2 separate regions of the Homo sapiens genome follow, and region 2 is reported to be linked to region 1. The links are microRNA targets in miRTarBase. Many come from high-throughput screens and were not tested one by one. Region 1 holds a microRNA gene; the other region holds the end of a gene's coding sequence.
What was found. Region 1 holds the annotated microRNA hsa-miR-3200-5p (AAUCUGAGAAGGCGCACAAGGU, at 1,482-1,503, opposite strand). A microRNA usually pairs through its seed, bases 2 to 8, with sites in the 3' UTR of a target mRNA and lowers its output. Matches are read on the target gene's strand: a 7mer-m8 pairs with bases 2 to 8, a 7mer-A1 pairs with bases 2 to 7 and ends in A, and an 8mer does both.

Region 1 (4,000 bases):
CCTTCATGAAACGGAAGTGCTTTTTGGTAATGAGGTTGCCTTCCCTGCCTGTAGTGCCTCCAGCAGCACCATGGTCCAAAGTTACTGAATGCCTCGTGTGCTGGCCTGGACTTCCATTCGATACAGCCTTATACAAAGTGGCCCATTTCAGCCTAGCAGCTGTGCCAGTGACTCCTGGCCATAAATTCACTGGAATCACAGGAACCCAGCTGCACTAGGGGGCAGCGAGCCTGACAAAACAATGGAATGGCCTACTGGCTTAGCGGGGACACCGAGGGAGAAATACCCCTCAGGTTTGAGCCTCTGTCCTCCAGGATGCCTTGAGCTGACAACTGATATCTGGTGCCATGTCCCCCACAGCTACAGCAGACAGGTCCAGGAGTGGCCCTGCTCACCATCACGCATGGTTGCCCTTTGCAAGGTGTGTGCTTCCCATCCTCACACACTTGGGATCAGCTGGGTTAGAGGATCTAGTCCTGGGGTAAGGGAGGAATGTGAAACAAAGATTCCACTGATCTGGACACTGCCACAACCACTTGGCCACCTACGGCTCCTCATGCCAGTGACCAACAAAGAGGGGAGTGACTCTACTGCCAGGGGAGTGACTCTACTGCCAGGGGAGTGACTCTACCGCCAGGGGTCACTGATCCTAATTGCCATGAGGAATTAGGTGAGTGGCCCATTTGGAAATGGGAGGAGAATGTCTGGAATAAAACCCAGAGGACTCCTTGGGATATCTCTTATTTTTATTTATTTATTTATTTTTTGAGACAGAGTTTCACTCTTGTTGCCCAGGCTGGAGTGCAATGGCGCTATCTCGGCTTTCTGCAACCTCCGCCTCCCAGGTTCAAGTGATTCTCCTGTCTCAGCCTCCCGAGTAGCTGGGACTATAGGCACCCGTCACCACGCCCAGCTAATTTTTGTATTTTTAGTAGAGATGGGGTTTCACCATGTTAGTGAGGCTGGTCTTGAACCCCTGACCTCAGGTGATCTTTCCACCTTGGCCTCCCAAAGTGCTGGGATTACAGGCATGAGCCACTGTGCCTAGCACCGGTATCTCTTAACATTTCCATGATTGGTAACGGCTGATAATGAGCAAGGCCAACAACACATGCAGACCACTCAGCGCAAACATCACAGACCAGCCAGAGTGCTGGCGGAGAGTGGAGAGGGTCTAGGGTGGGTAGTGCAGGAGGGAAATGATGAGTAACAATGAGCACACCAGGACCGGCCACAGCAGCAGCAGATGACCTTGTTTCACAACCTTCTTGCTTTATTCTTCCTGGTAACCCCAGTGGGCCAGCACCAGGAAATGGCTTCTGTCACTGATGGGATTTGTACCTTCCTGCTCAGGGAAGGAATGAGGATGTTTTTGTTCTCCAAGGAAAACGGAGATTCCCACATTGAAGTAGGAGAGCTGATATCATGGGAGGGCACGAGCAGACCTGAGTAGCGCAAGGTGTGGACTGTATTGGACACAAACCTTGTGCGCCTTCTCAGATTCCCTCGACCACCTCCTTCTTTGTCTCTCTCGATGATGCCTCATCCAGGTCACGCCGTACCTCCACTTCTGGGCTTGTATGAAATGCCACCGTGGAAAATAGGATATGAAAAGAACAGGTCAGATGAATCTCCCCCCACTCTTCCCTCCACGGATGGCTCTGAGGTGTATTTTCTTCTTGTGTAAGTTCTGGAAAAGTCCATGTGCCAGGCAAGCATGCTTGCTGAGCGACCCACCGTGTCTCTGTAGCTCGCTGTGAAGTCTCATCCAGCAAGGGAATGAGCTGGGTGGTCACTTTGATCTCTCCTCTGCCACTTGCCATTGCTCCTTCACTGCCCTGGGATTGCACCTCCCAAAGTGTCAGCTCTTTATTTTTCATTTATTTATTTATTTATTTGAGATGGAGTCTCACTCTGCCGCCCAGGCTGGAGTGCAGTGGCGCGATCTCGGCTCACTGCAACCTCCACCTCCTGGGTTCAAGCGATTCTCCTCCCTCAGCCTCCCGAGTAGCTGGGACTATAGGCGCCCGCCACCACGCCTGGCTAATTTTTTGCATCTTTAGTAAAGACAGGGTTTCACAGTGTTAGTCAGGATGGTCTCGATCTCCTGACCTCGTGATCCACCTGCCTCGGCCACCCAAAGTGCTGGGATTACAGGCGTGAGGCACCGCGCCCGGCCAGCATTAGCTCTTTAATCCCTGCCTTGGGCTATGTTTTCCAGAAGCCCTTCCCCAAAAATGTCCATGGGAAAAAAAAAAAAAATTATATATATATATATATATATATATATATATATAGAGAGAGAGAGAGAGAGAGAGAGAGAGAGAGAGAGAGAGAGAGAGAGAGAGAGAGAGACAGGGCAGCGAATCTGAATCCAGATGCACAGAAAGACCAAAAGCTACCACTCTGGAGCAAAGTACTTAGTCTTATATGGAACTTCCATTCAATGCAAGCTCAAGGTGACCCTGATTCACTGTGAAATTCCCATCCAACCTTCTGCATTCTAATTCAGCAAGCACTTCCTGTGGGCTACTATATAAAGGAACTGTGCTAGAAACTGGGGAGGGAGTAGATACAAAAATAAATACGACACATCTTTCTGGCCTCAATGGTCTAGCTTGGGAAGGACACAGGCCTGTAAATGACAAGCCACTGTTTGTTAACAATAAGTGGGGGGAAATAAATTCAAAATAAGGGAGGTGCTCACTCCATGAAAATTCACTAGCTACATCCTCGTAATTGACCAGTTTTTCTGCATGTATGTTATACTTTTATACTTTATAAAAATTGGCTTTAAAAGCAAACTCCAGGCTGGGTGCGGTGGCTCGCGCCTGTAATCCCAGGACTTCGGGAGGCCGAGGTCGTCAAATCACTTGAAGTCAGGAGTTTGAGACTAGCCTGGGAAACATGGTGAAATCCCGTCTCTACTAAAAATACAAAAATTAGTCAGGCATGGTGGCATGCGCCTGTAGTCCCAGCTACTTGGAAGGCTGAGACACGAGAATCGCTTGAACCTGGGAGGCAGAGGTTGCAGTGAGCCGAGCGAGATTGTGCCACTGCACTCCAGCCTGGGTGACAGAGGGAGACTCCATCTCAAAAAAAAACCCCAAAAAACAAAAAAACCCAGAAATTTATTATCTCACACTTCTGGAGGCTAGAAACCCATAATCAACGTGTTGAAGTCCACAAGAGCTGAAGTCCACGAGAGCCTGGCTAATTTTTGTATTTTTAGTAGAGACAGGGTTTCACTATGTGTGCCAGGCTGGTCTCAAACTCCTGACCTTGTGATCCACCTGCCTCGGCCTCTCAAAGTACTGGGATTACAGGCATTAGCCACCATGACCAGCTGATTTCCTACCTTTTTAAGGCTATCTCCCTGTTGTGTATACATATATACACACACATATATACACACACATATATATATATATTTTGAGATAGAATCTCTCTCTGTCACCCAGGCTGGAGTGCAATGGCACAATCTTGGCTCACAGCAATCTCTGCCTCCTGGGTTCAAACGATTCTCCTGCCTCAGCCTCCCAAGTAACTGGGATTATAGGCACCCACCAATATGCCCAGCTAATGTTTGTATTTTTAGTAGAGACGGGGTTTCATTACGATGGCCAGGCTGGTCAGAAGCTCCTGACCCCAGGTGATCCTCCCACCTTGGCCTCCCAAAGTGCTGGGTTTACAGGCGTGAGCCACCGTGCCCAGCCAATAATTTTAGATCCATCCATCCATCGATGGACATTTAGGTGGGTACTGTGAATAATGCTGCAATGAACATGGCAGTGCTAGTATCTTTGAGATCCTAATTTCAGTTCTTTTGGATAAATGTCCAAAAGTAGGATTCCTGGATCATATGGTAGTTCTATTTTTAATTTTTTGGGGAACCTTTATACTAGGAAATGAACCAATTTAAAATGGGTAAAAAACTTGAGTAGGCACTTCACAAAGGAAGATACCCAAATGGCTGATAAACATATGAAAAAGCACTCAA
Region 2 (4,495 bases), not on the chromosome of region 1:
GCTCATATACAGGGTGAAATGATTTTTGACAACAGTGCCAAGACCGTTCTTTGGTAGAAGGACAATCTTTCAAAAAATGGTGTTGGGAAAACTGGATATCTACATGCAAATAATAAAAGTGAACCATCACATTACATCATGTATAAATAGTAACTTATATTTAATCAAAGACCTATACTTAAAAGCTAAAACTATAAAATACTTAGAAGAGCCTGGGTACAGTGGCTCATGGCTGTAATCCCAGCACTTTGGGAGGCCGAGCAGATCACTTGAGGTCAGGAATTGGAGACCAGCCTGGCCAACATGGTTAAACTCTGTCCCTACTAAAAATACAAAATTTAGACAGGCGTGGTGGTGGGTGCCTATAATCCCAGCTACTTGACTACTTGGGAGGCTGAGGCATGAGAATCACTTGAACCTGAGGTGGAGGTTGCAGTAAGTCAAGATCATGCCTCTGCACTCCAGCCTGGGTGACAGAGGGAGAAAAAAAAATTACTTAGCAGAAAACATAGGGGAAAATTTTGTTAAATTTGGCAGTGATTTATTGGATACGACATTTAAGGCACAGACAACCAATAAAAGATAAACTGGACTACATCGAAATTAAAAACTTTTGCGCACCAAAGGACAATCTCAAGATGAAAAGAAAACCTACAGAAAGGGAGAACACATCTGCATATCACATATCAAATAAGGGCTTAATACCCACAGTGTATAAAGAATTCCTACAACTCTCTTCCAAGCACTTGGGAGCTGAAAAAAGAAAGAAATTTTCTAAATATTAAAAACTAAAAATTTTAAATAAGAATTCCTATAACTCAACAACAAAACACAAATGACTCAATTTTAATGAGCAAAGGATTTTAAAACAAACTGGTTCAAAAAATATATAAACAACCAACAAAAACAAAAACCAATGTGCATTATTATTGGTCATTAGGGAAATGCAAATCAAAACCACAATGAAAAAGCAGTACAGAACCATTAATTGGCTATTATGAAAAAAATACGACAACCAGTATATGTGACAATGTGGAAAATAGAAACCCTTATGCATTGCTGGAGAGAATGTAAAACATTGTAGCCACTTTGTAAAGCAATATACCTGTTCCTGAAAAAGGTTTACACCAATTATTCTGTGAACCAGCAATTACACTCCTAGGGATACATATATCCAAAAGAATTGAAAGCAGGGACTCACACAGACATAGACATACCACATCCACAGCAGCCTTATTGATAGCAGTCAAATTATTACTGTGGAAACAACCCATGTTTATCAACATAAAAATGGATAAACAAAGTATGCTTTAACCATACAGTGGAAATTTATTCAGACACAAAAACAATGAGTTCCTGATACATGCTACCACATGGATAAACCTTGAAAACGTTCTAAGTGAAATAAGCCAGACATGGAAGGACACATGCATACTTCCACATATCTCTCTCTCTATGAATAGTCAAATTCACAGACAGAGAAAGTAGAATGGAGATTTTCAGTACTTTGGGATAGGATGGAATAGGTAATTACATGTATGGAACACTAAGTAGATAGAGCAAGTAGCACAGTAACACGTATAAAATGATCCCTTCCTTTGTGTATTCTAGTTTGTACCAGCACTGTAAGAGGCTTCCAGATGAGCAGTTCCAGTGGTTAATGTTGGTAGTTCAAAGGGTAACACTGCCCTCTAGGCAACATCGTGGAGGTCTATTTGAGATATATTTCACTACAAGTTATTCTCATGAATACTTCAATGAAACAGCTCTTATCAAGGCCCCCAGTGACCAAATACTTGCCAAAATCTACAGTCAACCCTTTTTCCTTGTCTTATTCAAATTCTCAGTGACCTGTGACACAGCTGACCACTCTCCCCATATTGAAATACCTTCTTCTGGAGGCTTCCAGGAGAAGAAACCCATGTTTTCCTCCTACTACTTCATTGGGTGTTGGAAACCATTATGGAGTGAGGAAGTCAATGATTTCAGGAGCTTCTCCACTATTGATGAAGTATCAGGAATATCTCAAATGCTGCAAGGGAGGTTGGTGGGGAAAACAATCTATGACATGCTTGAAGACTTTATTGAGGAACACATTGACAGGACAAGAGCACCGCCATCTTTATAACACTCCACCATCCTAAGCTTTAAGTTTCTATTTGGCCACCTGGCCAAAACTGAAAATGTCAGCCCCGCCCATAACTTCAACAGAGAATAACGGCCCTAACTGTAACAGAACAGCCAGGACTTCCCCAACCCCTCCCTAACAGAATTTTGTTTCAAAGCACACTTCTCCACTGGGCCCTTTAAAAAAGCCTCAGGCTGTAAGAGAAGTTTGCACCTGACCCTGCCGCTGGAAGCCCTTCTCAGGTTTACTCCCAATAAAACTGTCTCAACTGTTGAGCCACCTTCTCATCTCTCCTTTCCTTAATCTTTCTATCCCAACACAAATAAGAGAGCATAAATACTAACAAGGAACTCGAAGATATACTGAAATTCTCTGCAGATAATGATGATAATGATGATGCAGAAGACTTAGAAGAGGTAATATCAAAGATGTGACACTTGAAACATGTGCAGCAGTTTTTGGGGCATCTACAGCCTCTGCAAGGTGAAAAGTATTAAAGATTACAATCCTCGCAGGGCACGGTGGCTCATGCCTGTAATCTCAGCACTTTGGGAGGCCGAGGCAGGTGGATCACCTGAGGTCAGGAGTTCGAGACCAGCCTGACCAACATGGTGAAACCCCATCTCTACTAAAAATAAAAATTAGCCAGGCATGGTGGCGAGTGCCTGTAATCCCAGCTACTCTGGAGGCTGAGGCAGGAGAATCGCTTGAATCTGGGAGGTGGAGGTTGCAGTGAGTCGAGATCGCGCCACTGCACTCCAGACTGGGCAATAAGAACGAAACTCAGTCTCAAATGATAAATAAATAAATAAAAATAAAAATAAAATAAAGATTGCCATCCTCAAGTAAGATCCTTCAATGGAACAAAACCTCTGTGTCACCCAAGGGATAACATGCCAACAAACACTGCAAGGATATTTAAAGAAAAAGAACCAGCTTCCTACAACAATGTTTCTAACTAAATATCTGCAAATATGAAGACAGATCCTTCAGTGTGTACACATCTTCAGCCCTCATGCTGAACAGATTCTGACATTAGTATTATTTAGTCTCTTCCAAACTCAGCATCTGCAATCAGAACCTGGTTCATCCAACACAGATGATCATCCTGACATCCTGTCAAGATTCAAGTGAGCCTGATGTCTCACTGTTTATCTACAGTGCCACCCATCTAGTCACCTCAGTGAATCATATTAGGCACCATACTGTAATCAGCATCATCATGATCATGATCATCATCATCATCCTTGGGTTATCAAGCAAGAAGGATCAGGATTTTCATAAGTGTTAACACACGATTCCAGGTCATTAAATAAAAGCAATCTATGATTGTTGAAAAAAAAGAAACTGTAGATTACAGGCTCATGCCTGTAATCCCAGCACTTTGGGAGACCAAGGCAGGCAGATCATCTGAGGTCAGGAGTTCGAGACCAGCCTGACCAATATGATGAAACCCCGTCTCTACTAAAAATACAAAAAAAAAAAAAAAAAAAAAAAAATTAGCTGGGTGTGGTGGCATGCATCTGTAATCCCAGCTACTCAGGAGGCTAAGACAGGAGAATTGCTTGAACCCGGGAGGCAGAGGATGCAGTGAGCTGAGATTGTGCCATTGCCCTCCAGCCTGGGCAATAAGAGTGAAACTCTGTCTTAAAAAAAAAAAAAAGAAAAAAAGAAACTGTAACATTCTAGGTGACATGTACTATGTAGGCAGGCCTGTGATGGTTGGGTCTGTTCTCAACAGCACAGGATTATTTTCATATCACGATTCTCTAAAAAAAATACAATAAAATGACTGTTTACATAGCTTTTACAACACATGAGGTATTTTAGTAACCTACTTTTTATTTTTACTTTTACAAAAGCTTTGGGTTGGTGAAAAATTAAGTAATCTAGGCATGATTTATGGGATGCAGGAGGATGTGGATAGGTTACATGCAAATGTCCTTTTATAAAAGGAACACAGCATCTGTGGATTTAGGTATGCTTAGGGGGTCTGGAACCAATCCCCTGCATATGGTTAGGGGATAACCATATTCAAAAGAAACATCTTAAGGCTTTACCATGTGTTTGCATTCATGAGGCTTATCTCCTATGTGATTTCTTTCACGTTTCTGAAATGAAATAAAATTAATGAATGCTTTTCCACATTTATAGAGTATCTCTCCAGTGAGTCCTTTTATGTCTATGCAAGGAACTGAGAGAACTCAGTGCCTTCCCACATTCCTTACATTCATGCATCTTCTCTCCAGTGTGAGTTTTTTCATGTCCTCGAAGGAAACGAGAACGAGTGAAGGCTTTACCACATTGTTGACATTCATAAGATTTCTTTCCAGTGTGAATTCTTTCATGTCGCAGAAGGCAAGTGAG

Region 2: the mRNA of ZNF442 is a reported target of hsa-miR-3200-5p. Seed matches in the 3' UTR shown: 7mer-m8 at 3,537-3,543.

Annotation. Positions count from the first base shown.
Region 1 is chr22:30,729,072-30,733,071 of GRCh38, reverse strand. MIR3200 (microRNA 3200) reads right to left here and starts at 1,515; the gene lies at 1,431-1,515. The region is part of intron 1 of OSBP2 (oxysterol binding protein 2); the gene reads right to left.
Region 2 is chr19:12,345,425-12,349,919 of GRCh38, forward strand. ZNF442 (zinc finger protein 442) reads right to left here. Exons shown (of 6, transcript NM_030824.3): 6 at 520-4,495. The coding sequence ends at 4,277. It also overlaps a transcript of ZNF563 not described here. Among named protein-coding and RNA genes, the nearest start is that of ZNF563, 14 kb to the left of the region's middle.